Linked DNA regions of Homo sapiens: all the other regions are reported to be linked to region 3. Evidence: microRNA targets listed by miRTarBase, many of them from high-throughput screens and not tested one by one. Region 3 holds a microRNA gene; each other region holds the end of a gene's coding sequence. Distances are from middle to middle.
Evidence for each region. The annotated mature microRNA hsa-miR-520f-5p reads CCUCUAAAGGGAAGCGCUUUCU and lies in region 3 at 2,560-2,581, opposite strand. An mRNA with a match to its seed (bases 2 to 7 or 8) in the 3' UTR can be bound and repressed. Matches are read on the target gene's strand: a 7mer-m8 pairs with bases 2 to 8, a 7mer-A1 pairs with bases 2 to 7 and ends in A, and an 8mer does both.

Region 1: miRTarBase lists EFNA2 as a target of hsa-miR-520f-5p. Seed matches in the 3' UTR shown: 7mer-m8 at 5,270-5,276.
Region 2: the mRNA of ZC3H13 is a reported target of hsa-miR-520f-5p. Seed matches in the 3' UTR shown: 8mer at 1,219-1,226 and 7mer-m8 at 2,029-2,035.
Region 4: miRTarBase lists UHMK1 as a target of hsa-miR-520f-5p. Seed matches in the 3' UTR shown: 7mer-m8 at 1,039-1,045, 7mer-A1 at 1,510-1,516 and 7mer-m8 at 4,019-4,025.

Annotation. Positions count from the first base shown.
Region 1 is chr19:1,299,144-1,306,265 of GRCh38, reverse strand. It overlaps EFNA2 (ephrin A2), which reads right to left. Exons shown (of 4, transcript NM_001405.4): 4 at 4,835-6,442. The coding sequence ends at 6,321. Among named protein-coding and RNA genes, the nearest start is that of EFNA2, 17 kb to the right of the region's middle.
Region 2 is chr13:45,951,080-45,958,201 of GRCh38, reverse strand. It overlaps ZC3H13 (zinc finger CCCH-type containing 13), which reads left to right. Exons shown (of 19, transcript NM_001330564.2): 19 at 905-3,737. The coding sequence ends at 1,075. Among named protein-coding and RNA genes, the nearest start is that of ZC3H13, 98 kb to the left of the region's middle.
Region 3 is chr19:53,677,632-53,684,753 of GRCh38, reverse strand. MIR520F (microRNA 520f) reads right to left here and starts at 2,595; the gene lies at 2,509-2,595. It overlaps MIR515-1 (microRNA 515-1), which reads right to left and starts at 5,751; the gene lies at 5,669-5,751. MIR519E (microRNA 519e) reads right to left here and starts at 4,814; the gene lies at 4,731-4,814. All of the region lies in intron 2 of LOC107985342 (a long non-coding RNA gene), which reads right to left. RefSeq lists an enhancer at 6,559-7,059.
Region 4 is chr1:162,521,723-162,528,844 of GRCh38, forward strand. UHMK1 (U2AF homology motif kinase 1) reads left to right here. Exons shown (of 8, transcript NM_175866.5): 8 at 682-7,122. The coding sequence ends at 828. Among named protein-coding and RNA genes, the nearest start is that of UHMK1, 27 kb to the left of the region's middle.

The DNA of each region.
Region 1 (7,122 bases), 52 Mb from region 3:
CCTGGCTAACACAGTGAAACCCCGTCTCTACTAAAAATACAAAAAATTAGCCGGGCGTGGTGGTGGGCGCCTGTAGTCCCAGCTACGCAGGAGACTGAGGCAGGAGAATGGTGTGAACCCGGGAGGCGGAGCTTGCAGTGAGCCGAGATCGCCCCACTGCACTCCAGCCTGGGCGGCAAGAGCGAAATTTCATCTCAAAAAAAAAAAAAAAAAAAAAAAGGTGGGGAGAGCCCAGAGGAGACTCGGGAAGGGTGTGCCAGCCAGGGCAAAGAGGGAACACCCGTGAGTGAGAGGTGCCCTGGGGAAGAAGCAGGTGTCAGGGCTGGGTTGGGGGACCAGAGGACAGAGTGCTGTGGCCTCTGGGGATGGTGGGGGGGGGGGCTTCTTTTTTTTTTCTTCTCCTTATTTTGTTTGTTTTTCTTATTTTTGTTTTGTTTTGTTTTCTTTTCTTTTCTGGAGCCTCTCATTACTGCCATGTGGCTGTTGGATCCCTGCAAGGCGATTCTTGTGTTTCAGCCTTCCCGAGTAGCTGGGACTACAGGCGCCTGCCATCACGGCCGGCTAATTTTTGTATTTTTAGTAGAGACAAGGTTTCACCATGTTGGCCAAGCTGGTCTCGAACTCCTGACCTCAAGTGAGCTACCTGCCTTGGCCTCCCAAAGTGCTGGGATTACTGGTGTGAGCTGTTCAGTATTTTTGTTTGTTTGTTTTTTGAGACAGGGTCTGGCTCTGTCACCCAGGCTGGAGTGCAGTGGCGTGATCATGGCTCAATGCAGTCTCAACCTCCTGGGCTCAAAGCATCTTTCCCCCTGGGCCTCCCGAGTAGCTGGAACCAGAGGTGCGTGCCAGCATGCCTGGCTAATTTTTTAATTTTTATTTTGCCGAGATGGTGGTGGTGGGGGTCTCACCCTGTTGCCCAGGCTGGTCTTGAACCCCTGGCCTCCAGCAATCAGCCTGCCTCAGTCTCCAAAATTGCTGGGATTACAGGCAGGAGCCACCATGCCCAGCCTCCGTTCAGTTTTGAGGGTGAAGAATGAGACACCATTTCTAAAAAGCAAAAAAAAAGTGAGCCCCCCTCCATCATGGCTGTTTGGACCAGAGGGTGGGGACCAAGGGGTTTTCTCCTCAAACACAGATGTAGACAGGCACACTGAGGCTCAGTGGTGAGGTCTGGGGGGATGCAGAGCCCTGCCCTGGGCCACCGGGGCTGTGGGGGGCGGCACGTTCCACCCCAAGCCGCACTCAAGAGTTTTGGGCGCCTCAGGCCTCCTTTCCCCTAGCAGCCTCCCGCTGCCCCCTGCCCGCGGCGGGCACCGAGGCGGCAGTAACTGGCCGGCAGGAGGGAGATGACTTCCCTCAGGATCCTCTGGGCGGAAAAGACTCTGCGCGGGACCAGCGTACCAATGGCCGTCCAGGGCTGGCAGGAGCCGGCATTGGGGTCTCACTGGGGCTGGGGTCGGGGGTAACCAGGTTCCCCAAGGAGCGCCCACACCCGGCGGGGACATCCCAGCACAGCCCCTGGAGTGAGTGGCCACTCGACACGTTGATGCAGCCACTGGGACAGGCACCAGGGTCTGGTCAGGGTCTGGCGCGGGAGTGGAGGTCAGTTCCTGAGAGGCTCGGGCCCAAAACACATGTGTCTGGCGACACAGGGGTACACAGGCATGGAGGTGCAAGCGCAGGGCTACGCGTGTGTGTGTGTACACGTGTCTGCGTGTGGCCAATGACACGGTCCCAGGAGATTCCCTGCTCTGGGCCCAGCACTGGTCCCGGCGATAACCAGGACAGACCCAGCCCTGCCCTTAGCGGCTGCAGCCTGGGGAGGAGTCAGGTAAGTAAACAGTCACAAAGGGCACCCACAGCCTCCTGGCCAGGAGCTCAGGTGACATCTGAGCTGAGTTGGAAGGGGCTGAGTGGGGGAGCCTGGCTGCAATCTGCAAGAGAGGTTCATCGGGGCAGTGGGGTGGGCTGGGGGGACAGTGCATGCAAAGGCCCAGAGGCAGGAGCTCAGCCATTCTTTGTGTATTTACCCAAAGTCACCTTTTAGGCTGGGCGCAGTGGCTCACGTCTGTATTCTCAGCACTTTCGGAGGCCAAGGCAGGTGGATTACTTCAGGTCAGGAATTTGAGACCAGCCTGGCCAATATGGTGAAACCCCATCTCTACTAAAAATACAAAAATTAGCTGGGCGAGTTGGCACACACCTGTAATCCCAGCTTCTCGGGAATCTGAGGCAGGAGAATTGCTTGAACGTGGGAGGCGGAGGCTGCAGTGAGCCGGGTTCGTGCCATTACACTCCAGCCTGGGTGACAGAGAGACTCAGTCTCAAAAAAACACAAAAACAAAAACGAAAAAGCAAAGTCACCTTTTGCATTGAAACTTTGTCTCAAAAATAATAAGATTGTCACAATATGCCCGTAGTGCCAGCTACTCAGAGGCTGCGGGAGGCAAATCGCTTGAGCCCAGGAGCCAGAGGTTTCAGTGAGCCGTGATCGCACCACTGCACTCCAGCCTGGGCGACAGAGTGAGACCCCGTCTCTAATAAATAATACAGAGTTAAATAATAAATCTAAAAAAAGCATCTTGGCTGGGCGTGGTGGCTCACTTCTGTAATCACAAGAAGTTTGGCTTGTGAGTTTTTGTTCTTTGTTTTTTAGAGACAATCTCTGAAAATGGTGAGATTACAGGGGTGAGCTACCATGCCTGGCACCCCCAGCACTCTGGGAGGCCAGGGCGGGAGGATCACTTGAGCCCAGGAGTTCGAGACCAGCCAGGAAATATAGCAAGACCCCATCTCTACAAAAAACAATAATAATAATAAATTGTATTTTTAACAATTGTCATAATAGCTAAAAGGTGGAAAGTACCCAAGTGCCCCTGGATAGATGATTGGATAAACACAGCGTGGTCCTTCCACGCACCGGAACGTGCTCAGCTGTGAAAAGGAGCGAGGCTCTGACCCAGGCCACAGCGCAGATGCACCTTGAGGACGTCACACTCAGTGAGAGATGCCAGACACGCAAGGCCACACAGTGTGTGACCCATTTCCATGAAACGTCCAGGACAGGCCCATCCACAGAGACAGGGAAGGAGGGGATACGTTGGTGCCAGGGGAGGGGATAAGGAGTGACGGCTGATGGGGACAAGGCTTCCTTTTGGGGTGATGGAATGTTCTGGAATCAGAGCTGATGGCTGCACAAGTCTCAATGCACTAAAATCCATGCAATTGTACTTAAAATGGAGGGAAGGACACTATTGTGTTTTTGTAACAGCATCACAGTCAGCACTGGGATGCCTCTCATGATCCCTGATCTCATTCTGTCCTTGGTCCTCTCTGTCCCAGTGGTCACGTTGCAGTTTGGGGTGGGGGTCTCGGCATGAATGGGCTGTGGGGGTCGCCTCCCTCTCTGAGCCTCGGGGTCCTCTGTGGAGTGGGGCATGGTGGAGCCTCCCCCGCGGTGCTCAGCACGGTGGCCGGCCGGCCCTCTGTGCCTCCGTGCGTCCACCCCGCGCTGGGCAGGGGCGGGGCGGGGCACACACAGGGGTCTTTGTGCCTGGGCTGCCTCATTAGGAGGCGGCCCCCGTCACCGGGCCCAGCGCAGCTGAATTAATTAGCTGGGAGCGTTCCCGCTCGGCTAATTGTGCCGGAGACGCCGTCGTCACGGCGGGTGGGATGCAGGCGACCATCGTCCAGCCGTAAAGACCTCAGTCCCCTGGGCCGGGTCACCTGCCGCGTCACCCCCAGCCTCTCTGTGCCTCAGTTTCTTCAATCGGGGCGTGCCTGGCATGAAGGCCCCTGGGACCCGAGAACTTACAGATGTGCCGTTTGCAAGGGGAAGAGGTTAGGAGATGACAGAGCCCCTGCCCTGGCCTGGAGCAGGTGGGGAAACTGAGTTACACAGAGGCAGAGCTTGCCAGTGGAGATTTCACAACATTTGATTGGATCCTGAGGCCCAGGAATTCCACCATGTTCAGGTGTGTGCCGGCCAGCGGTGTCCCCAGGGCCAGCCATGCACAGGCCCCGTCTCCTCCCTCCATCCTCCCAGCTGCCCCCTCCCAGCCCTAGGTGGGCTGTTGCTACTTCCCAGAGAGGGAAACTGAAGCCCATGGATGGCTATGAAGGATACGGGCCCTATAAAATGCTCATCCCAAGGTCTGACCCCAAAACGATGCACAGAACCAAAGAATCAGTCAGGTTCACAGCTCTGGGGATCCCCAGAGGTTCCTCGAAGCCGCACCCCTCTCCCCAGTAGATTCCAGACCCACCTCTAAATTATTATTATTATTATTACTATTACTATTATTTGAGGCAGGGTCTTGCTTTGTTGCCCAAGCTGGAGTGCAGTGGTGTGATCATAGCTCCCTGTAGCCTCCACCTGCCGGGCTCAAGCCATCCTCTCACCTCAGCCTCCCGAGTAGCTGGGTCTACAGTTGTGCACCACCACGCCGAGCTAATTTTTTTTTTCCTTTTTGAGACAGAGTTTCGCTCTGTTGCCGAGGCTGGAGGGCAAAGGCACGATCTCAGCTCACTGCAACCTCCAACTCCCGGGTTCAAGAGGTTCTCCTGCCTCAGCCTCCCGAGTAGCTGGGATGACAGGCGTGCACCACCTCACCTGGCTTTTTTTTTTTTTTTTTTCATATTTTTAGTAGAGATGGGGTTTCACCATGTTGGCCAGACTGGTTTCAAACTCCTGACCTCAAGCGATCTGCCCGCCTCGGCCTCCCAAAGTGCTGCAATCACAGGAGTAAACCACCACGCCCAGCATCCACCGCCAAATTAGGAATGCAAAAGTCTCCTTCAAGTAGGGCAAGGCCCCCACATACAGACACACGCGTTTGAGGTTTATGCTCATTTTATTATAAAAAAATACAGAATCCAAAGTTGATTGTGACGGGAAGAGGGAGGCCCGGTCGCCAGCTCCAGGCCTGGCAACGCGGCCCGCCCCGCCGACCCCCTACAAAAGCCCTCTGCCCACCCCCCACCACCGGGCGTGCCTCGAGCCGCCGGCCGGCGGCCGTACACAATATATATTTATATATAATATATATAAAACACAGAGTCAGGAAAGGCGGGTAGAAATATGAAATCCGTATAAATGTGTTGTTTCCTTCATTAAAGTGTCTTCGGGGAGGAGTTTCTTTTTTTTTTTTTGGTAGTGGTTCCCTCCCTTTTGTCCTTTTTTTCTTTTTCTTAGAAACATTATCAGGTCACAGAGTTGAGAGAGGGGCTCTGACAGACGACACGAGCTTATTGCCAAGTGCAGCTTCTACTCTAAAAGTCCACCCCACCCCCCCACCAAAATAAAAGACCCCCTATGAAGGGCTGAAAAAACATAGACGGTCCAGTCCGTCCTCAGGAATACGTGGAAAATAAAATCACAGTTTGCACTTGCTGGCTGTATTTACAGGAACAGAAGGTCTTCTCGGCCTCGGAGAGGGACCGTGTGAGGCGAGGGGGACGGGTAGGGGGCTGTTTGCATCGGCCAAAGCAGTTTCTAAGACACGGCGGGACTGTGATTCCGAAGGGCGCTGGGGCAAAACAGTGTCTGGGAGGAAATGACCAGGAGGACGGGGGTGGGCGATGGGGTATGAGGTCTCCCCAGCCACAATGAGGGGCGCCCACCACGTACCCCTTCCGGCTCAGACTCACCCAACCTGGAGCACCAGGGGGGTCCGCGGTGGGCTGCAGCTGTGTTCCCCCACGAGTGGGGTGCAGAGCAGAGGGGAGCGGCTGTGTTCCCCCACGAGTGGGGTGCAGAGCAGAGGGGAGCGGCTGTGTTCCCCCACGAGTGGGGTGCAGAGCAGAGGGGAGCGGCTGTGTTCCCCCACGAGTGGGGTGCAGAGCAGAGGGGAGCGGCTGTGTTCCCGACCCCATGTTCCGCGTTCCCCTCCCCCAGGCCAGGGCACAGGGACCCCGCCCCGCTACAACGGCAGGGAATAAATTAAATTAAAAACTCAAGTCTTTTTGATCCAACCACGAAAAATACACTAAAAAAAAAAAAAAAAAAAAAAAAAAAAAAAAAAATCGCCAAGAGGTTCCCGGGTTCTCCGACGCCCCAGAGGAGATGGCCTGGCCACGGTCCGCATCCACACCCCGGCCCCTCGGGCCTCCGGGGGGGGGCTCTCGGCCGTTTCCCCTCCCTGAGGGCTGGTCCTGGGGCGGGTGGATGGCCCCTGCCCGGCGGGGGCGGCACCAGGCGAGGGAGAAGCAGCGTCTCTATTTGGTCTCGGAGGCGGGGGCCGCAGCCGGGTCCGGAGGGCCGAGGTCAGGCGGTCCAGGCGGGGCCGTCCAGGCAGGGTCGGCGTCCTGCGGGGCTGGGACTAGGAACCCAGGAGGGTCCAGAGCACGGGGATGGTGCTGAGGAAGAGGCGGCAGCCGCCCGGGCTGCTACACGAGTTATTGCTGGTGAAGATGGGCTCAGGAGCCTCGTACAGGGTCTCGTCTGCGGGTGGCAGAGACAGCACGCTCAGCGGCCGCCCGAACCCCACTGGGCTCCCCACGTGCCGCCCGCCCTCAGGGTGCACATCTGCCCAACGGGCTCATCACCCCACCAGGCAGGCCCTCTGCTCCCTCTTGGTGCCATCCCCGATGCCCACTCTCCGGGCAAAGTCACTTGGCCTGAAGTGGGGGACCTGGCTGTTGAATTCAACCTTCACTCTTTTAATCTTTTTTTTTTTTTTTTTGCTTTATTTTTATTTATTTATTTATTTTTTGAGACGGAGTCTCACCGTCGCCAGGCTGGCGTGCAGTGGCGCAATCTGGGCTCACTGCAACCTCCGCCTCCCGGGTTCAGGCGATTCTCCAGCTTCAGCCTCCCAAATAGCTGGGACTACAGGCATGTGCCACCACGCCCGGCTAATTTTGTATTTTCAGCAGAGACGGGGTTTCACCATGTTGGCCAGGACGGTCTCCATCTCTTGACCTTGGGGTCCACCCACCTCAGCCTCCCAAAGTGCTGGGATTACAGGTGTGAGCCACCGTGCCCGGCCACTCTGTTTTTATTTTTATTTTTATTTTATTTTATTTTTTAGACGCAGTCTTGCTATATCACCCAGACTGGAGAGCAGTGGCGCAATCTGGGCTCACTGCAACCTCCACTTCCCGGGTTCAAGTGATTCTCCT
Region 2 (7,122 bases), not on the chromosome of region 3:
ATTTTTAAAAAACAGAAGAATGAGTTTATCTCCAAAGATTAAAATGGAAACAAATACGAGGAACAGGAGATTTTTAAAACATGTCTTGACTGTATAATCAAGTTTTCCTCACTTAAAAGTCTGGTTCAAGATTACTTTTGACAGAATCACTACAGTCATTCTCCTTTGCTCCCTGATTTCAGTATGCACTTTTCTTTGTTTTGTATTTTGTAACATTCCCTGGTCCCTTCTCTATGACAATAACTTTCCAAAAAATGCTAATGTAACTTTAAGTCACAATAATATAGATACATATTTTAGTATAAGGGAGGTAGTAGTTCTTCAGCATACTGCATGATTAGCTGTCTTCTAAAGGATTTATTCAGTTTTCGAGCTCACTTTTTATGGGACATTGAAAGATTGGTAAGGAGTATAGAATAGAATGTTTGGCTTACAGAAGGAAAAACTATGTGAGGAAGGAACTCATGGCACTTACCTTCATAGAACTGAAGGATTGTCAAGTAAAGGTAAGATTGAATTACAGTGTAGCACCATAGAAGAGCTTTTATTCCATCACATGGAAGAAATAGTGCCATTCAACAACAGAACGTGCAGTGTGTTTTTTGTTTGTTTTGTCATTGGAAATGATAAAGTAAAAACCGGTTGATTACCTGTCAGAAATTGTTGAGAGGATTCCTACTTTAAGCAAGAGGTTAAACTAGGTGCCCTCTAAAAGTTTCTTTTCAAAGATTCATTGAGCCCAAACACATTTTCTAATTTTGCTTTGAAATCCAATAAAGCTAATTTAATATCCAAAATGAAATACTCTTATAACTTTGATATTTTGGGTAGAGGTTAACCTGCCCATCTTTCCTACTAATAATGTACATCTTTTTTAAAGTTTGTTTTTGTTTTCTTCAAATAGGGCACCATAAAACAAGCTTACACGAGTGCTCCAATGGTAGACAATGAATTACTTCGATTGAGTCTTCGGTTATTTAAGCGGAAGACTACTTGCCATGCTCCAGGACATGAAAAGACTGAAGATAATAAACTTTCACAGTCCAGTATCCAACAGGAACTGTGTGTGTCTTAAGACCGAAGTTCAATATGGTATTTTTGGTACTGTCTTCCTTCAGCAGTGCATATTCTTTTGCAAAGTTCTTTGGTTTGACAAGCATTAGTGACAAAGGCAGAAAAGATTTATCAGCCATGCTAAAAGAGTGAAGAATTTTGATCTTTAGAGACACTAGTTTTGGCCAACTTAAGATTTTACGTTAATTTTTACATAGTATTTGACACTCATGCAAAATAATGTGAAAACATCTAGATTTAGTAGTTTATTCTGCGCCTTTTGTTAAAACTGAAGATTTTGGAAAATGGTTGTCACTGCTCTTCCAGCCTATGAATATTTTTGTGAAATGGAACCATGGATTTATGTCTGGATCATCCATACAGAACCAACAATTTTATTCAAAAACAATGTGTTCATCAAAGTAATTGCTCACATTGTGCAGTACTATGTTGTACAGACCACGTGAAAGGGAATGCTGGTCTAGCTGGCGTGGTATGTTTATAGGCGAATTTCAGCAGAAGGAAGCCAAAATAGTTTTTTCCTTTTGAAAGTTTTTTAAAAATTATTTCATGGGTCTTTTTTTTAATTAATATGTGTGCATTGTTACAATGTATGTTGGATGTCTTTTGACCCTAAATGCTTTTTTTGTTATCAGAGATTGTGTACTATTTTTATTTTTAATAAATGTATCTTCCCTTTCCTTGTTTTAGATTTACTTTGCTCTTCGTTAATCTTATTCCTGATGATCTAGAACATTAGTCATCAACATTACATGTTTCATGCTTCAGATATTTTACTGCTTGTGTCCTTATTGTTGGACAGCTTTAAACAGAGTTGATGTACTTCAAATATAGCTCATTGATACTTAAGGCATCTTCTTGGAATGTGGCTTTTGAAGAAAAAAATTACTCAAAGCAAATCAAGAGTTAACAAACCTAACGTAACCTGAGGTTTAATATTCTACTATCATATTTTTTAGAGCTATAACTTTTGATTATATTAAACTGCCTCCAGCTGTACTATGTAAAACAGATTTACTTTTAAAAATTACAGTATACCTGCTTTGTTCTATATGTATATGTTTAACTCATGAAGTGGACTCTTAGAAGGATTTGAAATGGACTCTGGCCACAGAATTTGTGAGCAGACAGTAGTAGTGATAATAATAAAAGAAGGCAATCAAAATTTAATTTTATCATGCCCTCTCACAGGTTTGTGTTATAATTGTAAGCCCATATTACTTGTGTTAGTAGTTTTGTCTCTATAGGTAACATAATGACAGTGGTGTAAAGTTTCTGTTCAAGAAACATATGTTGTAAAGTTACTTTATACAAGATACCTGCCAAAGGAAATGGTCTTACTTTCAAATGACTTTGAAAGCATGTATAATTGCAAACAGAGCAGGAGAAGACTTTAATCAGAATTTCCTTGTGTCCTTTTCCTTTACTAAGTGTTTTGAATAAAGAAAAAAAAAATGTATGACCTCAGAGAATGAATACCCTTCAGGAAGCCACTTCCTGATTTTAGTGGATAATATTGTTCTCTGTAGCACAAAGATTTAAAGTCCTAGAATTTCTAATCCTAGTTCTCAGAATTGTAGAATATGACAAAAATAATGGTTTCCCCATTTGTCCACTGACTTCAGGGATATTTCACAAGTTATTTATTTATAGAATGAAAACTATGTAGTTAAATCTGTCATTCAGTTAAACCTGTTGTCTTTCAGTTTGAAATCTTTTTGTTATGTATGTTGCAAAAGAAAATTTAGAACTATTCCTTTGTTCACTCAGTCACAGCATTCAGAGCTTTATGTTTCCAGTGGAAATGTACTGTTCAGTCTCAATTTCTTTTAATTCAACCATTCTCAGTATTAGTAACATATACCTATAAAATTTTTCTAAAGCAAAATTTTTGATTGAATTTCTCATAAAAGCTCTTGGACCATAATTAAAGTCTCAGTTAAACTGGTATTCCCGAAAAACAATCTTCCAGTCTATAAATTGTTTGCTAGTACAATTAAAAGGTCATCTATCTCATAACTGACGGCTCAGGTCTGTCCAGTTGCCATAATTGCACAACTGGATTCCAGCTGCTGGTAATAAGGAATTGTGTAGATAGATAAAGGGCAAGAGTATGTCTGCAATCCAAAATAAATGAGAGTTAACACATAATTAGCCTTTTGATTATTTTGGCAGCTATCCTCACCATTTAGTAAAGGGTATACTAACAATACCCAACTTTATTTAACAAAGTTTTGTAAGCATACCTAAGTAGTAACTTGATATGCTGAAAAATCTGACCTGTCACTTCGCTTCACTCTGACCAGTAATTGCAGATTGTCGTCACCATCCTAGCCTATGACTACATTAGGATTTTATGACTTATTAACTTGAAAATCTGTTCTGTAAGTGGCATTGGTAGAATCTCCCACTTTGCTCCTCACTGTCCAATTGTGTAAAGATTAAGGTACATACTATTGTTGGTGATGCTTTTACACCTCAACTTGCTATTTTAAAAGGTTATATGAACCCCTCCCACTTTTAAGGATATTCCCTTTTACTGATTTTCCTAGCTAAAATTATATAGCCATCTTTCTAAATATTGTATTTAAATCTGATCTAGGACTTGCCTTATTTTATCATTTTTCTTTAATAATCTCCAATAAACTTTCTTTATTCATTAATTTTGTTGATCTTTCCATTTCAGTATTTTGAATGACACTCTGGGGAATCCAAGTTTAAATGGTGAAATATTTTTATTAAATAACTTTCTACATGCATCTGTAAACATACTTTCTCAACTTTATTGAGCTGTTTCTTTCATATTTTTTTTTCTTTTTTAAATTATTTTTATAGAGATGGGGTCTTGCCTGGGCTGGTCTCAAACTCCTGGCTTCAAAGCCATCCTCCCGCCTTGGCCTCCCAAAGTGCTGGGATTACAGGCATGAGCCACCATGCCCAGCCCTTTTTTTTTTCAGAGGCAGGGTCTTTCTCTGACCCCCAGGCTGGAGTGCAGTGGCAGGATCATAGCTCACTGCAGCCTCCAACTCTAGGGCTCAAGGGATCCTCCCACCTCAGCCTCCCAAGTAGCTGGGACTACAGGTGTGCATCATCATAACTGGCTAATTTTAAAAAGAAAAATTAAAAAAACACTTTGGTAGGCCAAGGCAGGAGGATTGCTTGAGCCCAAGAGTTCAAAACCAGCCTGGGCAACAAAGTGGGACACCATCTCTGCAAAAAATACAAAAATTAGCCAAGTGTGGTGGCACGTGCCTGTAGTCTTAGCTACTCAGGGAGGCTGAGGCAGGAGGATTGCTTGAGCCCAAGAGGTTGAGGCTGCAGCGAGCTGTGATGGCGCCACTCCATTCTAGCCTAGGCAACAGTATGATACCCTGTCTCAAGTTTAAAAAAAAAAAAAAAAGGTGGGGGGGGGATCTTACTATGTTGCCCAGATGATCTCAAACTCCCAGCTTCAGGCAGTCCTTCCATCTCAGTCTCCCAAAGTGTTCGGATTACAGCCGATAGCCACCACCTGGTTATACTGTGATAGAAGTACAATTGGAGTAGCTTAGGTAAAGATGGGAAGTAAATAGACATGAATAAAATGTAAATTGCAGTGATTGCAATTAAAGAAAAAACCAAATGACTGAGATGAGAAATAAGTGTAGCGATTGGGAGTTGGGTACTACTTCAGATTATCAAGAAGGTCTTACGTATGAGATGAGTCCTAAAAAATGAAAAGAAGCTAGCAAAGAGCAAAAGGGGAAGGAGTATTTCAGGCAGAGGGATGGGGATATGCAAAGGCCTAGGAAAAGAGCTTTGGTGAATTCCAAGACGAAAATACTACTATGGCTCACCACTGGGTGGAGGGGATGGGGGTTGCTAGAGAGAAGGTCTAGAACAGTGCTGTTCAACAGAATATTCTACAATGATGGAAGTGTTCTGTAAATGCTGCCCCCCAAAAAATGGCCAATACAAGCTTCATGTGGCTTGTATTAAACACTTGAAATATAGCCAGTGTGACTGAGAAACTGAGTTTTAAAATTTTGTCATTACTTTTAAATAGCTGTATGTGGCTAATGGCTACCATTTGGGGTGGTGTAGGTATATATCTTGGCAAAGCCTTGTGGAATATGGAAGTGTTTCCCACAGTAGAGTATAAAACAAGTTCTGTATGTTCTAGTTACTTTGCATGGCAAGTGGTACTGATTGTTTTAGTTTACTGTGGCAATATAACATTTCTTTTTGGAATAAATGTTAATAACTAAACAAATTAAGTAGTCAGTGTGGAAATAGGACAGAAATTACTGGTGCTCAGATAATTGAAGTTTAGAATATGTAGGCTATGTATGAAGTTGGAATTTCATTTGAAAGCAAAAGTAATAAGTAATAATAAAAGGATAAAAGGCATTCAATCACGTCAAAACAGGCAAGCAGAAGAGAAAAAGCAATTTAGAACAGGTGAGACAAATAGAAAACACACGGATGTAAGCCCAAATGTATTCACAAATTATGTTAAATGAAAACATTCAGTATCCAATTAAAAGACAAAGATTATCAAACCACAGAAAAACAACTACATGTTGCTTATGAGACTGACCTAAAACATAGGGAGCTTTAAAAGTAAAAGGATAGAAAAAAGACACCATGTAAACATCAAGAGAAAACGATGTTAATGTTAATCAGTTATCCCTATGTATTTCATATGTATTGCTGTAATGCTTGCCAAATGCCGGTTTTCTAATTCCACTGTTTTTTCTACACTTACTGGAATTCCCTTATCCATTTATTTCTCCTTTATTCACTTATTTATGTCAGTATAAACTCATAGATTCCTATTTTATTTCATGGGTTATAACTCATTATTGCTCAAAATATCCATGTTTTAGACTTGTTAATTAACTTCCGTGTGTATGTGTGACAATTCCAATATTTAATGCCAATTCAGAATCTGTTTCTATTGTGTGTTGTTTCTGTTGGCTCTTTTTCATGTTTTCTTCCCTACTCTTAGGTCTGGTTATCTTTCACTATATGCCGAAATCGTGTTTGCAAAGTTGTTTGTAGAAAAAAAGTGGAGGTCTAAGATGCTGTTGTCCAGACACAAGTTTTTTTTGCTTCTGGGGTCACTGTCAGACTGAAAACATCTTAATCCTGTTTTAGGAACTAAGATGATCTGAATCCCCAGATGACTCGCATCTTGGCTGCAGTATATGCATGGGCACTTGTAGCTCACTGTCATTCCCAGGGTTCAGACTTTGAGGTCTAGATCCAAAGTACAAGGGTTCATAAGAGCCTCCATTCTTGGTGGATCCCATGTGCCAGTGTTTTCTGCCTTCCCCAAGAGGACATCATAACTTATGATTGGTTCCTCAGTCTGTTTTCCAGATTTTTAAATGGCATCTGGGCAAAATTGACCCCAAATGTCAGGTTCACCCCTGCATATCTATCTCCTGAATTTTGGCCCAAGATTTTTTCATCATCTTACTGGCTTTTCAGTGTTCAAGCAGAATTTTTAAAATAAATGTTTTGTCCAGCTTCTCCAGTTCTTAGTGTGAAGTTGTTCTGAATTATCTCATCTCCCATTACCAGAACAGTTTAACTTTTTTCTTTACTTCCATTTCATTGCATTTCTCCATTTTATTACCTGTACTCATTTGGTTTCCCACAGTGTGTATTTTTCTTTTTGTATAACTCCTTTCCTAAGCTCATATTTTTTCTTTCTGTGATTTCATCATCTCTTCCTTCTTGTTTCTTGTTTTGTGGACTTTCTTCATGGAGGCAGTTGAATCACTAGATTTTAATATTCATGTTGAATTTTTTTTTTTCTTGAGATGATGTCTCTGTTGCCCAGGCTGGAGTGCAGTGGCATAATCATGATTCACTACAACCTCCACCTCCCAGGTTCAGGAGTCTTCCCACTTCAGCTTTCCAGGTAGCTGGGAACACAGGCACATGCCACCACACCCAGCTAATTTTTTATTTTAACTCTTTTGTGCCAACAAGGTCTCCCTATGTTGCCCAGGCTGGTCTCAAACTCCTGACCTCAAGCAATCCTTGACTCGTCCTCCC
Region 3 (7,122 bases):
CCATGAGAATTGGGCTGGATTTCTAGAGAACAGCAATGGATTTGAAGCCAAGTGTTCACATAAGTCCCAGTACAGGGACACACAGTCCCCATGCAAGCATCCAAAATGGAATCTAAGATGATGTTTAAGAATATACACTGTTGTACACACATTCTCCAGGATAGAACACAGGCTAGGCCATAAAAGCTCCTCAATAAATTTTTTTTTTTTTTTTGAAACAAGTCTCACTTTGTTGCCCAGGCTGTAGTGCAGGGCCGTGATCTCAGCTCACTGCAAGCTCTGCCTCCAGGTTTCCAGCAATTCTCCTGTCTCAGCCTCTGGGGTACCTGGGATTACAGGCACGTGCCACGATGCCCACCTAATTTTGCATTTTTAAAATTTTTTTTTCTTTTTTTTCTTTTCTTTTTGTGGAGAACAGGGTCTCACTGTATTGCCCAGGCAGGTCTCAAACTCCTGGGCTCAAGCTATCCTCCTGCCTCTGCCTCCCTAAGAGCTGGGATTACAGGCGTGAGCCACCGCGCCCGGCTAATTTTTGTACTTTTAGTAGAAATGAGGTTTCACCATCTTGGCCAGGCTGGTCTCAAACTCCTGACTCCAGGTGATTAGCCTGCTTTGGTCTCCAAGAGTGCTGAGACGACATGCCTGAGCTACCGTGCCTGGCCTGCAGACAGCTATTCCAGAGGCTGCGGTGGGGCATGGGCCAAGACTGCAACACTGCACTGCAGCCTGGGTGACAGAGCCAGACCTTGTCTCATAACACACACACACACACACACACACACACACACACACACACACGAAGGAAAAAAAACCCAAAGTGATACAAGAGTATTCTGTGTGTGTAGAAGAGTGTTTTGTGTTAATCATTATATTATCTATAGAAGATGATATGATAAAATGTGTATCATATATAAGACACTGCCCCCAGAAAAGGAAGTTCTATATACTGAATGCTCACACGAAGAGTAATTTCTCCACCTAAGTGCCTTCTCTGGCAGCATATGTTAAAAAAAAAAAAAAATGACAGCGATTCCCACGTCCCCTGCACAAAGTGACACCCAAATTCATGATGGTCCCATATTTAAAATTAGAAAAAACAAATGCCGACACCCACAGCCAATCATTTCTACTTCAAGTACATCTCAAGTATACTGTTAATCTGAAATACAAATTTAACCAGGTTTCCCTGCTCTGGGAAGCCCCCTTTGGTAATTCAGATAAGGGTCTCCTTTGGAAGGTAATGGGTAAGGAACATGGAGATGTCAGCCAAGGGAAGTGACTCTCAGGGATTTCTATGGATTATGCAGACGCCCAGCCAGATCCCAAACTTCCCCAAAAGATCCCAAGTCCAGGCAGGAAGGACCACTGGGCTCCAGAAACCAAATGAAGTGGCCCTGGGCAGGAGTCTCTGTTGTCAGATTCCATGACTAAGACAGCCAGGGAGCAGAGTGAAAATCCCAGGGGCTCTCTCTCCCAGAAGACACCTGCTCCATCCAGATCAAACCCAAAATGTCCCCAGAGAATGATGCCTGCTTCTCCTTTCCCCTCGGCTCATCCTGCCTGCATCGGTGCAGTGCCCTGACGTTCCCAGCCCAGAGGCCTTCACTCCTTCCAGTGCCCCAGGAGGGTCACCTTGCAGTTCTCAGGGAGGAAGATGGGGTCTTCCACCCTTGTGAGCTTCCCAGACATCAGGGTCTGCCCGCCCCACTCCATTCCCAAAGGATGTTCCGCCCAGTTCTCCCAGCCTCCTGCTTCCCTCCAGGGACCACCCTTCAGTGGTAAGATTCACATTGCAGACAACCAGGACCAACCCATTATCCTCAACTGGACACCCATACAAGATTGGTCTACGTGACCGGCCTACAAGAGGCAGATCCAGAGCTAGAGAGATGGGGAGTCGTTGCCACGGTCTGGGTGGAAGAGGTGGGTGGGTACTGACTGCAAATGAGTATAAGCCTCTTCGGGGTGATGAAAATCTTCCAAAACTAGAGTGGTGGTGGCTGCAAACAAGCTAAAATCCACATCTCAGAGTTCATCTCAAAAGATTAGTTTCTCGGCCGGGCGCGGTGGCTCACGCCTATAATCCCAGCACTTTGGGAGGCCGAGGCGGGCGGATCACGAGGTTAGAAGATCGAGACCATCCTGGCTAACACGGTGAAACCCCGTCTCTACTGAAAATGCAAAAAATACAAAAATTAGATGGGCGTGGTTGCACGCACCTGTGATCCCAGCTACTCAGGAGGCTGAGGTTTCAGTGAGCCAAGATAGTGCCACTGCATTGCTGAGACACACAGTGAGACTCCCTGTCAAACAAACAAACAAACAAACAAAAACGACCGGAGCCCAAGAAATGTAGGTTGAAGTGTCACCGCACTCCAGCCTGGGCAACAGGGACCTTGTCTTGGAATACAACAAAACAAAAGCAAAACCCCACCATCATCCAAGTCTGATGATAAGCACGCTCTGCAAATATTTTACCAAGATCAGCATCAACTTCAACATTGCTTTTCCCAAACGGTAACCCTCTAAAAGGAAGCACTTGCTTTTCTTTCTGACCACAGAAAGCGCTTCCCTTTAGAGGGTCACAGCCTGAGATCCTCTTGCTCCAGCACCGTGGATTTTTTGTGGGAATCTTCCTTGACCAGGTTTAAATGGACACAAAAATAAAGATGCATTTATTGGGGCCGGGCGCAGTGGCTCATGCCTGTAATCCCAGCACTTTGGGAGGCCGAGGCGGGCAGATCACGAGGTCAGGAGATCAAGACCATCCTGGCTAACAGGGTGAAACCCCGCCTCTACTAAAAATACAAAAAATTAGCCTAGCGTGGTGGTGGGCACCTGTAGCCCCAGCTACTTGGAAAGCTGAGGCAGGAGAATGGCGTGAACCCAGGAGGCTGAGCTTGCAGTGAGCCAAGATTGTGCCACTGCACTCCAGCCTGGGTGACAGAACGAGACTCCATCTCAAAAACAAAACAAAACAAAACAAAAAGATGCATTTATTGGCCCTGTTTGCATGTTTTCTGGAATCCAGAACATAAACCCCTAAAAGGACCATCTCCAGTCCTTTGCTTCAAAGAATCAGCAGGTTAGCCTTGTTCATCAAGGGGCAATCCTCCTGAGTTCTGTCCCCAAAGAGAAAAAGCAATGCCTACCACATATACCTTATATTTAACCATGAGAATTGAGCTGGATTTCTAGAGAACAGCAATGGATTTTGAGCCAAGTGTTCACTCGAGTTCCAGCACAGGGACACACAGTCCCGATGGGAGCATCCAAAATGGAATCTACTATGTTCAAGAATATACACTGTCTCACACACAAACATCCTGCAGGATAGACCACAGGGTATGCTGTATAAGCTCCTCAATAAATACAGAAATACACAAGTATGGGTGGGGCGTGGTGGCTCACACCAATAAACCCAGCACTTAAAGAGGGCAAGGCAGGAGGATCACTTGAGCTCAGGAGTTCGAGCTCAACCAGCATGGGTAATATGGTGAAACCTTATGCACAAAAAATAGAAAAGTTAGCTGGGTGTGGTGGTGCGCACCTGTAGACAAGTACTCAGGAGGCTGAGGTGGCAGGTGGAGGTTGCAGTAAGTCGACATGGCACCACTGCACTCCAGCCTGGGTGATAAAGCTAGACCTTGTCTCAAAACAAAACAAACAAACAAACAAGAAAAACACAGAAAGAAACAAGTAAATAAATACCCAAAGTGATACAAGAGTATTCTCCGTGTGTAGAACAGGGTTTGGTGTACATATGACTACATTATATACATGATAAGACTATATGATTAAATATACATCATATATTGTTGAGACCCTGTCTATGAAAAAAAAAAAAAAGAATATACTGTTTGCTCACATTAAAAATAACTCCTCACCGGGTGCGGTGGCTCATGCCTGTAATCCCAGCAGTTTGGGAGGCCGAGGCAGGTGGATTAGTTGAGGTCAGGAGTTTGAGACCAGCCGGACCAACATGGCAAAACCCCGATTCTACCAAAAGGACAAAAATTAGCCGGGGTGGCGGCATGCACCTGAAATCCCAGCTACTCAGGAGGCTGAGGCAGGAGAATCGCTTGAACCCGGAAGGCGTAGGTTGCAGTGAGCCGAGATCATGCCACTGCACTCCAGCCTGGGCGACAAGAATGAGACTCCATCTCAAACAAACAAACAAACAAACAAACAAAATTCCTACACACAAGTGCTTGCTTTGGCAGCACAAAAAAATACAAATAATAATTAAAAAAAAAAAAAAAAACACCCTGCAGTCCGAGCAGGGTGGCTCATGCCTGTAATCCCACCACTTTGGAAAGCAGAGGCGGGCAGATCACCTGAGGTCAGGAGTTCAAGACTAACCTGGCCAATGTGGTGAAACTCCATCTCTGCTAAAAATACAAAAATTAGCCAGGCGTGGTGGCACGTGCCTATAATACCAGCTACTTGGGAGGCCGAGGTTGCAGTGAGCAGAGAATGTGTCACTGCCTGCCCGCCTGGCCCACATAGTGAGACTCTGTCTCAAGAACAAAAACAACAAAAAAAGTAGGGGGGACCAACTAGCCTAAGAGGTCTAGGTTGGAAGCGCCACCGCACTCCTGCCCGGGCAACAGAAACCCTGTGTTGCAAAAAAACTAAACAAAAACAGAACCCCAACATCATGCAAGTCTGATGATAAGCACGCTCTGCAAATGCGTTACCAAGATCAGCATCAACTTCAACGTGGTTTTTCTCAAACAGTAACACTCTAAAAGGAGGCACTTTGTTTTCTTTCAAACAGAAAGTGCTCCCTTTTGGAGAATGACTGCATGAGATCTTCTCGCTCCAAAACTCTGGGTTTTTGTTGGAATTTTCCTTACCAGGTTAAAATGGACACAAAAATAAAGATGCATTCATTGTCCCTGTTTGCATGTTTTCTGGAATCCAGAACATAAACCCCTAAAAGGACCATCTCCAGTTCCTTGCTTCAAAGGCTCAGCAGGTTAGCCTTGTTCACGAAGGGGCAACCCTCCTGAGTATTGTCTCCAAAGAGAAAAAGCAAAGCCTACCACACATACCTTATATTTAACCAAGAGAATTGGGCTGGATTTCTAGAGAACAGCAATGGATTTTGAGCCATGTGTTCACTTGAGTTCCAGCACAGGGACACACAGTCCCGATGGGAGCAACCAAAATGGAATCTAAGATGATATTTAAGAATATACGTTGTGGGCCAGGCACAGTGGCTCATGCCTGTAATCCCAGCACTTTGCGAGGCCGAGGCAGGTGGATCACCTAAGGTCAGGAGTTCAAGACTAATCTGGCCATCATGATGAAACTCCGTCTCTGCTAAAAATACAAAAATTAGCCAGGCGTGGTGGCATGTGCCTGTAATACCAGCTACTCGGGAGGCAGAGGTTGCAGTGAGCAGAGAACATACCACTGCACTCCAGCCTGGGCCACAGAGAGAGACTGTCTCAAGAGAAAAAAAAGGGGGAGGGGGTGGGGGCAGGGACCAACTGAGCCCAAGAGGTCTAGGTTGGAAGTGTCACCGCACTCCAGCCTGGGCAAGAGACCCTGTGTTGCAAAAAAACTAAACAAAAACAGAACCCCAACATCATGCAAGTCTGATGATAAGCACGCTCTGCAAATGTGTTACCAAGATCAGCATCAACTTCAACGTGGTTTTTCTCAAACAGTAACGCTCCAAAAGAAGGCACTCTGCTTTCAGACAACAGAAAGTGCTTTCTTTTGGAGAATGACTGCATGAGATCTTCTCACTCCAAAACTCTGGGTTTTTTGTTGGAATTTACCTTACCAGATTAAAATGAACACAAAAATAAAGATGCATTCATTGGCCAGGCGCGGTGGCTCACGCCTGGAATCCCAACACTTTGGGAGGCTGGTCAAGAGACCACGACCATCCTGGCCAACATGGTGAAACTCCGTCTCTACTAAAAATACAACCATTTGCCGCCTGTGGTGGCATGTACCTGTAGTCCCAGCTACTCGGGAGGCTGAGGCAGGGGAATTACTTGAACCAGGAGGCAGAAGTTGCAGTGAGCCGAGATCGTGCCACTGCACTCCAGACTGGCAAGAGTAAGACTCCATCTCAAAAAAAAATAAAAATAAAAATAAAAAAGGTGCATTCATTGCCCCTGTTTGCATGTTTTATGGAATCCAGAACATAAACCCCTGAAAGGACCATCTCCAGTTCCTTGCTTCAAAGGCTTAGCAGGTTAGCCTTGTTCATCAAGGGGCAATCCTCCTGAGTTTTGTCCCCAAAGAGAAAAAGCAATGCCTACCACACATACCTTATCTTTAACCAAGAGAATTGGGCTGGATTTCTAAGGATGTTGAGCCAGTGTTCACTTGAGTTCCAGCACAGAAACACACAGTCCTGATGGGAACATCCAAAATGGAATCTAAGATAATGTTTAAGAATATACATTGTTGTACACACAAATACCCTCCAGGACAGACCACAGGCTAGGCCGTAAAAGCTCCTCAGTAAGATTTGACAGAGCTGGGGGGAAAAAAAGAATGTACATTGTCACACACACGAACATTCTTCAGGATAGACCACAGGCTAGGCTGTAAAACCTCAATAATTTTTTTTCTTGGAGACTAAGTTAGGAAAAACAAATGCCCACACCTAAACAACCAATCATTTCTAGTTCAAGTACATCTCAAGTATACTGTTGACCTGAAATAGAAAGTTAACCGGGTTTCCCTGCTCTGGGAAGCCCCCTTTGGTAATTCAGTTAAGGGTCTCCTTTGGAAGGTAATGGGTAGGAACATGGAGATGTCAGCCAAGGGAAGTGACTCTCAGGGATTTCTATGGATTATGCAGATGCCCTGCCAGATCCCAAACTTCCCCAAAAGATCCTAAGTCCAGGCAGGAAGGACCACTGGGGTCCAGAAACCAAATGAAGTGGCCCTGGGCAGGAGTCTCTGTTGTCAGATTCCATGACTAAGACAGCCAGGGAGCAGAGTGAAAATCCCAGGGGCTCTCTCTCCAGGAGACACCTGCTCCATCCAGATCAAACCCAAAATGTCCCCAGCCAGTGATGCCTGGCTCTCCTTTCCCCTCGGCTCATCCTGCCTGCATCGGTGCAGTGCCCTGACGTTCCCAGTCCAGAG
Region 4 (7,122 bases), not on the chromosome of region 3:
GGTTCAAGTGATTCTCCTGCCTCAGCCTCCTGGGTAGCTGGGATTACAGGTGTGTGCCACCTTGCCCAGCTAATTTTTGTATTTTTAGTAGAGACACGGTTTCACCGTGTTCGTCAGGCTGATCTCGAATTCCCGACCTCGTGATCCACCTGCCTTGGCCTCCCAAAGTGCTCAGATTACAGGAGTGAGCCCCTGCACCCAGCCAAATTGTACTTCCTAATAGGTGCAATTTCCAGCAGCTTTTGACCAATATTTTTTCCTTTTTCACTGCTAAAAGTACAGATTATCATCCAGGTACCATTGAAATGCAGTTGCTGTCTGAGCTATTCAGCCGTATCTTTGGCAGATGTCTAGTGTTATTCATCACTCCTGTAACGACCTTAGCAAAAGATTGTACATGATTCACACAACTTGTCCTTGAGAGATTTTTCAAAGTTGAGCTGAGTTGTGAGGAAGTATTCTAAACCTTGCTGTCCTGAAGTATAGTTCATAGACCAGCAGCATTGGCATCACCTGGAAGTTTGTTTAGAACAGAAACTCAGGCGACATCTCAGACCTAAGGAAGCAAAATCTGCATTTTAATAACATCTCCAGTTGATGTATATATATTAAAGGTGGTAAAGCACTGGTCTAAAACAATCTTGGTGGAAATGAAATGTTTTTTTCTCTGTCTTCTTTCAGGTCTTTGTTGAGTATGCAAATGCTGGTGATTCCAAAGCTGCGCAGAAATTACTGACTGGAAGGATGTTTGATGGGAAGTTTGTTGTGGCTACATTCTACCCGCTGAGTGCCTACAAGAGGGGATATCTGTATCAAACCTTGCTTTAATCAGTAACCTAAGGACTGTTTCCTTTTTCTCCTCTTCCATTTCTTGGGTTATTCCACATATGAATGCAGGACTACCCCCTTACCATTTTAAGAAGGTACTTTATACATTTATTTAATCCTACTAATGTGCAGCCATTGCCCAAGCAGTGACTGCGTTGCATACATTTGGCACTGAGTAGGACAAGACCTCTCAGCTATACATTGAGGGGTTTTAGAGCATCCATGTGGGCAACCCTTTTTTGTGCGGGAGAGCAGGTGTTGCTCTTCAGTATGTAGCCTAAAAAAATCTTAATTATTTCATGGATCATGAAGCAAGGATGAATAATATCATGTCTTGGTAAATACTAACAAATTTGTTAGGTTTGGTGACATCATTTACAGATTATTTCTTTATGTTGTCCAGTGGTTCTTCCTTATTGTTGATATCCATAAGCTGGCACTGGATGCTCTCAGTAATGTTAAGTAATTGTCAAGCAGCAGTTACCTACTGTGTTCTTAACACTGAGTTGTGAATTTTTTCTTAAAGCAGTACTGTAGTACTGAATATTCCTTTAAAGGAACTGCAGTGAGCCTATCTAAGTTTTTTTAAATTAAGGCTTTTAAAATAGAAAGCTGATGCTTGATCTTGCACAATTTTTATGTCTAGTATGTATGCTTGAGTGAATGTGCGAGTATGAATGATTAGAGAAAATTTGAGTCAGTGTACTTTATAGTGTGAATCCTGTGAGCTAATACAGTCTATACTTATTTCTTCCCTACCTGTTTCACATCCGTAAGATTTAAGATATACATTTTTTGAGAGGTAGTCTGTCTGATACAATGTAAATGACAAAACATAATTCCTGAGAGGCCCAGAACAAACTGGAGTCTAGCCTGGAGTTAAATTGAGACTTCTAAAATGATTGGAACAAAGACTAAGTTGTGCCAGATGTAAATCAACCCCTCTTTTAGTTTACTTTAGACTTTGTATTAGCTCATCTTTTTTGTAGTAAATCTATAGTTTTAAGGTTTCTCAAGATGTGGCTCTACCTACTATGATGAAAATTGAAGTGGGTCAAAAGAATTAGATGTACAGTGAAGGGAAAAGAAAAAAAATGGGCGAAGAGAGGGTGGAAAATAAAAGGATTCTTTTTTCTTCCTTTCTGTTTCTCGTATCCCTGCTCCCTTTTTCCTCCCCTTCCCTCATTCTTTGCCTCTATCCTTAGCTGAAGACAAACTAGAGGAGCAGCATCCCAGGTAGTTTGGCTTTTGACTGCAAGGTAGTTAAGAAAGGTGTAGATATAATGAGGTAGAAGTAGAAAGGAAGAAAAACTCAAAGAATTCTTAAAAGGATTCATAGCAACATAATGTGTCCCTGAGTAGAGGATGCTGCTATGCGTGAGTTCATGGACACAAGTTGATTACATGGTTTTTAGAATTATAATTATGGATTCTTCTTATTTCATGGTAGGTTGTCTTTAAAGATATAAAAATTAGGATGCCTTTATGAAGCACTGATTATACCAAAAAAAAAAGACAAGTTATATACAGGTTATTAATTTTTTTATTTATTTATTTTTTCCTAAGGAAAAAGTCTTCTATCTTTCCCTGCTGGAAGCCTCCTCATATTTCCTTATGTTTGCCATGCAGGTTGCTGAGAGTCCAGTTAGAATTTGCATTTTACAGAATGAAATACTTTACCCCATTCAAACAATTATTGTTTGACATTTTAGTTATTTATAATTGTCAAATTCAGGACTCTCCTTTAATGTTTATTATGAAACCAAATTTGGCATAAGGAGGCTGATTTATGAATTACCAAAGGGTCTTGTGGCATGTTCCCCAATACATGCCCTTAGAAGGAAGAACTATTATTTTTTATTTTGGCCCTTTCAGGAGTTGATTATAAATTGGTTTGTTTTCAAGTCAGAATTCAAGTGGGCAGAACCCGTATTGTGAAGACCTAAACTTTCCTAAATGTTCATATGGGTAGCAGATTTTGTGGTGATTAGAAACATCAGGTCCTTAAATACGATGAACATGGGATACAAAGGAATTCTTTATAAGGGCAAGTATCCTAAGTTAGCACATTTACTTTTCTCTCCCCTCCGCCCCCAAAAGAAAAATCCTTACAAATAAACTGCAGGTAGGCTTCTAAGCCTAGTCCTGCAGTATGCTGCTAACATCTTGATGCCAATCTTCACAGCATTCTTTGATTGTCATCTTATTGCTGATACATTCATACATATATTTAGTGCTTGACACTGTAGAATTTTGTTACAGAAGATGGTTACTAGATTTTAAGGGAGCTGAGGGAATAATTGATGAGCCTTGAATTAACCATGCATTTAATTAGATTTTTTGTTGTTGTTGTTGTTGTTTTGAGATGATGTCTTGCTCTGTTGCCCAGGCTGGAGTGCAGTGGCTCAATCTCGGCTCACTGCAACCTCTGCCTCGCAGGTTTGAGCGATTCTCCTGTCTCAGCCTCCCCAGTAGCTGGGTTTACAGGCGCTTGCCACCACACCTGGCTAGATGTTTTATATTAAAGCCAGAGAATTGAAAAAGAAATGCCTCCTGTGATTGAAATTATTTTATAGCTCTTAGCCCGTTCTACCAAAGATCACATTAGCAGATTACCCCTCCCTCCTGTGATATTATCTTTCTTAAACCTGAACCAAATATCAAAAGATACAAGTTTCATGATTAGGATGAAATATATACATAGGGATTTTGGTTTATTGAAGTTATTGAAAGACCTAGAAATTTTCTTTTTGAGAGAAAGGGTAAAGAGGTGAGGGTTCATGTCACTTAACCCCTACCCTTTTGGGCAAATTTTGTCTCAGGTAGTGTTTCATTCCCTAAATTAATACCTGTGCTTCCTTGCCTCTCACCTTCCCAGTTACTTCTTTGGGGTATTACTGTGGCACATTGTACACCCAGAAAAGGCACATACAGTGATTATTTTGTGGGAAATACTTGATTCTTTTGAAATATATTTGGAGGGGGTAGCTAGCTAGCCACTGTCAAAACTAATGCTGTATTTACAGGACAAAAACAAGTAGAGTTGGACACCTCAGTAAGAGACAGCATTAACTAAAAGTACTGACTGCCTTTTAAAGGAATTTTTAAAACTATTCTCTTGCAATAAGAGATCCGCATTTATTACCACTGGATGTCTTCCTTTTTTGTGGCCACCAATATAGCAGCTCTCTTTAGAGGGATTCCCTTTCTGCTATGCCTTGAGCCAAACTGGCTGCTTTTAGAACAAAAACCATAAGTATGGTTTTACTCGAACTTCTCTTTGTTTTTATTGAGAGAAATATTGCCTTCTTTTTGGTACTCCAGCTGCTAAAGAGTGCTGAGATATGTTAAATTATTTTTTAAAAGAAAATCTCCAAATACTTATTTAACTTGTCTTCTAGATTCATGTTGCTTATATTTTAACTATTGAGCAAGTTTATTATAAGGAATGCTGCCATATAGAGAAAGCTGAAGAGAAACCATGGGCAGAAGGCTTTTTTCTGTCTTATTACACTGGACCTTCACTCTGGTAAGGGCATCAGTTACTTTTCTGGAATAAAAGGCGGAGTTAGAGCACTTATCAGATGCTGTTTCATGGCTTGTTTTAGTTAATTTATCATGCAGATAACTAACATTTGGGTATCTTTTTGTTTTAGGTCTTATTTTCTGACTGTTAGGCCTATCTTACACATAAGTTCTACTATCAGTATACTTGGCAGCATGACTTTTTTTTTTTTTTACAGTTAATTTAATGAAAATCAGCACCATTGTAAATGATAGTAATTGTAACAACATAGTTACTGGGTGAAGGAGTAGGGGAGACACTCAGTAACCATCTATTTACCTAGACACTTATGCAGGGGTACATGCTAGGTGGCTTTATTCAGATTCGGGTACATTGGAATCACATCATGACTTTGAGTCTGATGGCTGTGTAGATAAAGATTTAAGCAAGTGCCTTGTGTTTGCTGGAAAATATTAAAACTCATTTGGGTGAAAGCTTCCCAGATGATGATAATTAATAGCACTTCTGCCTTTTTCCTGGAGTAACTTTTAGATTGAGTCACATATGATAGTATAAAAGTCCAAAATTTTCTGGGTTTACCTTTGTTTTATTTTTCATATATATATTCACTGTCTGCCTGGAAATAGCCTTGGTTTACCTTATTTTTTTGTATATGTAAAACTATTCATATTTGATTTTATTCCAATATTATATATGATGGAAAAGCCAGAATTGTCTGGCAGAATTTAATTCTTCCTTGGATCTCTAGTTCTGTTTTTAATATCAGGTTCCTTCATCAAATTTTACTACTGTAGCTCTGTGATATAATTTCATTTCTTGTCAATTATGGTCACATATAGACAAGTACTTGGTCACAATTAGCTCAAAAGAATCCCCATTTCTTAAGGTGCTCAGTCAATCACCTTTATTTTGAGATGGTAGTTTTTCAAGTTAGTATTACTTACTAGCTTTCTTGATGAATATAAAAATGTTGTCTCCATCATACAGAGCTGAGCCTCTTGTGGTATATTAAGATAAGTCCCATTCTTAATCACAGAAGAACATGGATATTTTAGTTTTTGGAGTACCCAGAATTGTAAAGATTTTGTTTCATTTTGTTTTAGGATAGCTTCTCTGCCTAATACTATAGGATATGTCATGTTCGTTATTGTAGCCACCTCCCTCAGATGTTTTTCACTATTTTTAAATTATATAATGACCAGTAGATTCACAGTAGCATGTACTTGACAAGTGCCATGGATATTTAAGAAGAAGGTAAATAATTTTAATATTTTTTGCTGTAATTTTATAGGAGCAGTGGACTGTAAGAGAAATATCTATAAATCAGAGAGTATTTAGGAAACTTTGTATTTTATAGGTGGTCATTAAAGTGATCTTCAGGATATAAGATAGTTTACACAAACTTTATTCTCCTGATAGGAAATTTTTATTCATTTTCCTACCACTCAGCACTTTTGTTCTGCCTTGTACTGCTTATGAGGATTAATGTTTTAAATTTGCTTTATTTGTGCTTTTCAGAGAGTTGTCATAATTGTGGCAGTTGTGTTTGTGGCACTGTAAATGCTGAAATTCATGGGAAACTTACCAAATGACTGCTTGAGTGTTATTTCCCATTAAATTGGGTAGCTGTCACAATAACCAGAAGAAATCTTGTGGCCCTTTTGAAGAAAGCCATGTATGTTTTGTTACCTAGGTTCATAGTATTTTAATTTAAAGGCAAAGAGAAGCATTCTACTTATTTGTCTTATAAACCATTAATCGTTTTTTGTGCAGAAGAGAGCTTATTTTGTTATACTGCTTTGTATAATGGAAATAAGTCACATTCTGGGGGAAAAAAACTGGAATTGTTTGTATTTTGTTTTTTTGGGGGGGGATCTTTATGTGAAAAATCAGAGCTACTTGTTACCATAAGCCCTTACTATCAACAAGATAATTATTTGTAATCACTTTTTTATCCCAGGTTGGAATTGCTTTCCCCTTCTAAGTTATCTTCCCTTAATAATATTTATGATACCAGGACAGTGAGGGTATAAGAGCAAATGTAGTGAGGTATTCAAAAATCCTGCATATATGGACTCAAAAGTTCTTTAGTTATTTGAATTATATATAGCTATATTATTTTATTAGCTTGGGTTGTCAGAAGATTGCCAATTTTAAGAGTAAAGAGGAGAGAGATAAGTAATAAAAATAGAGGAGGGGAAGAAAATGGCTCCCTTACTGGTCTTAGTAATCTTCTATATAGTTAATGAGCTAAAAAATGATACTTAAAGTTCCAGGTTTGGTACCGCTAGCATAGAAACATTGCCTTTCCTACACATTCCTCATCATTGTTTCCTCAGAAAATTATTTTAAGAGTTTGTGAAACCAGATTAAATATCTATATTCAGTTTGGCCTAATTTTTAAAAATAAATATTTATACTCCAGCTTTTGTGTATTTGGTGTACATCACCACTTATGCAAATCAAGGATCAGAAAACTGGAGGTTAGCCATCTCCATTATTTCCTTTTGCACATTGGGTACAGTGGGTGGCATTAGTATGCACTAGCTGCAAAGTCACAGCACCTTATGGAAATAAGTATGTTTATTATAATAAAAAAAAGTTAAGCTGCATCTCTGTAGATTATTTACTTTGCAGACTGTAAAGCTGCCCTATCTTTTCCAGCAGAATTTACTCTTCCATTCTTAATTCTTTTTTGAAATATCTTAAATAATTTAACATTCCTTTATAACTTCTTAACAGTGTCAAAACTGGGGTAGAAGGGATTT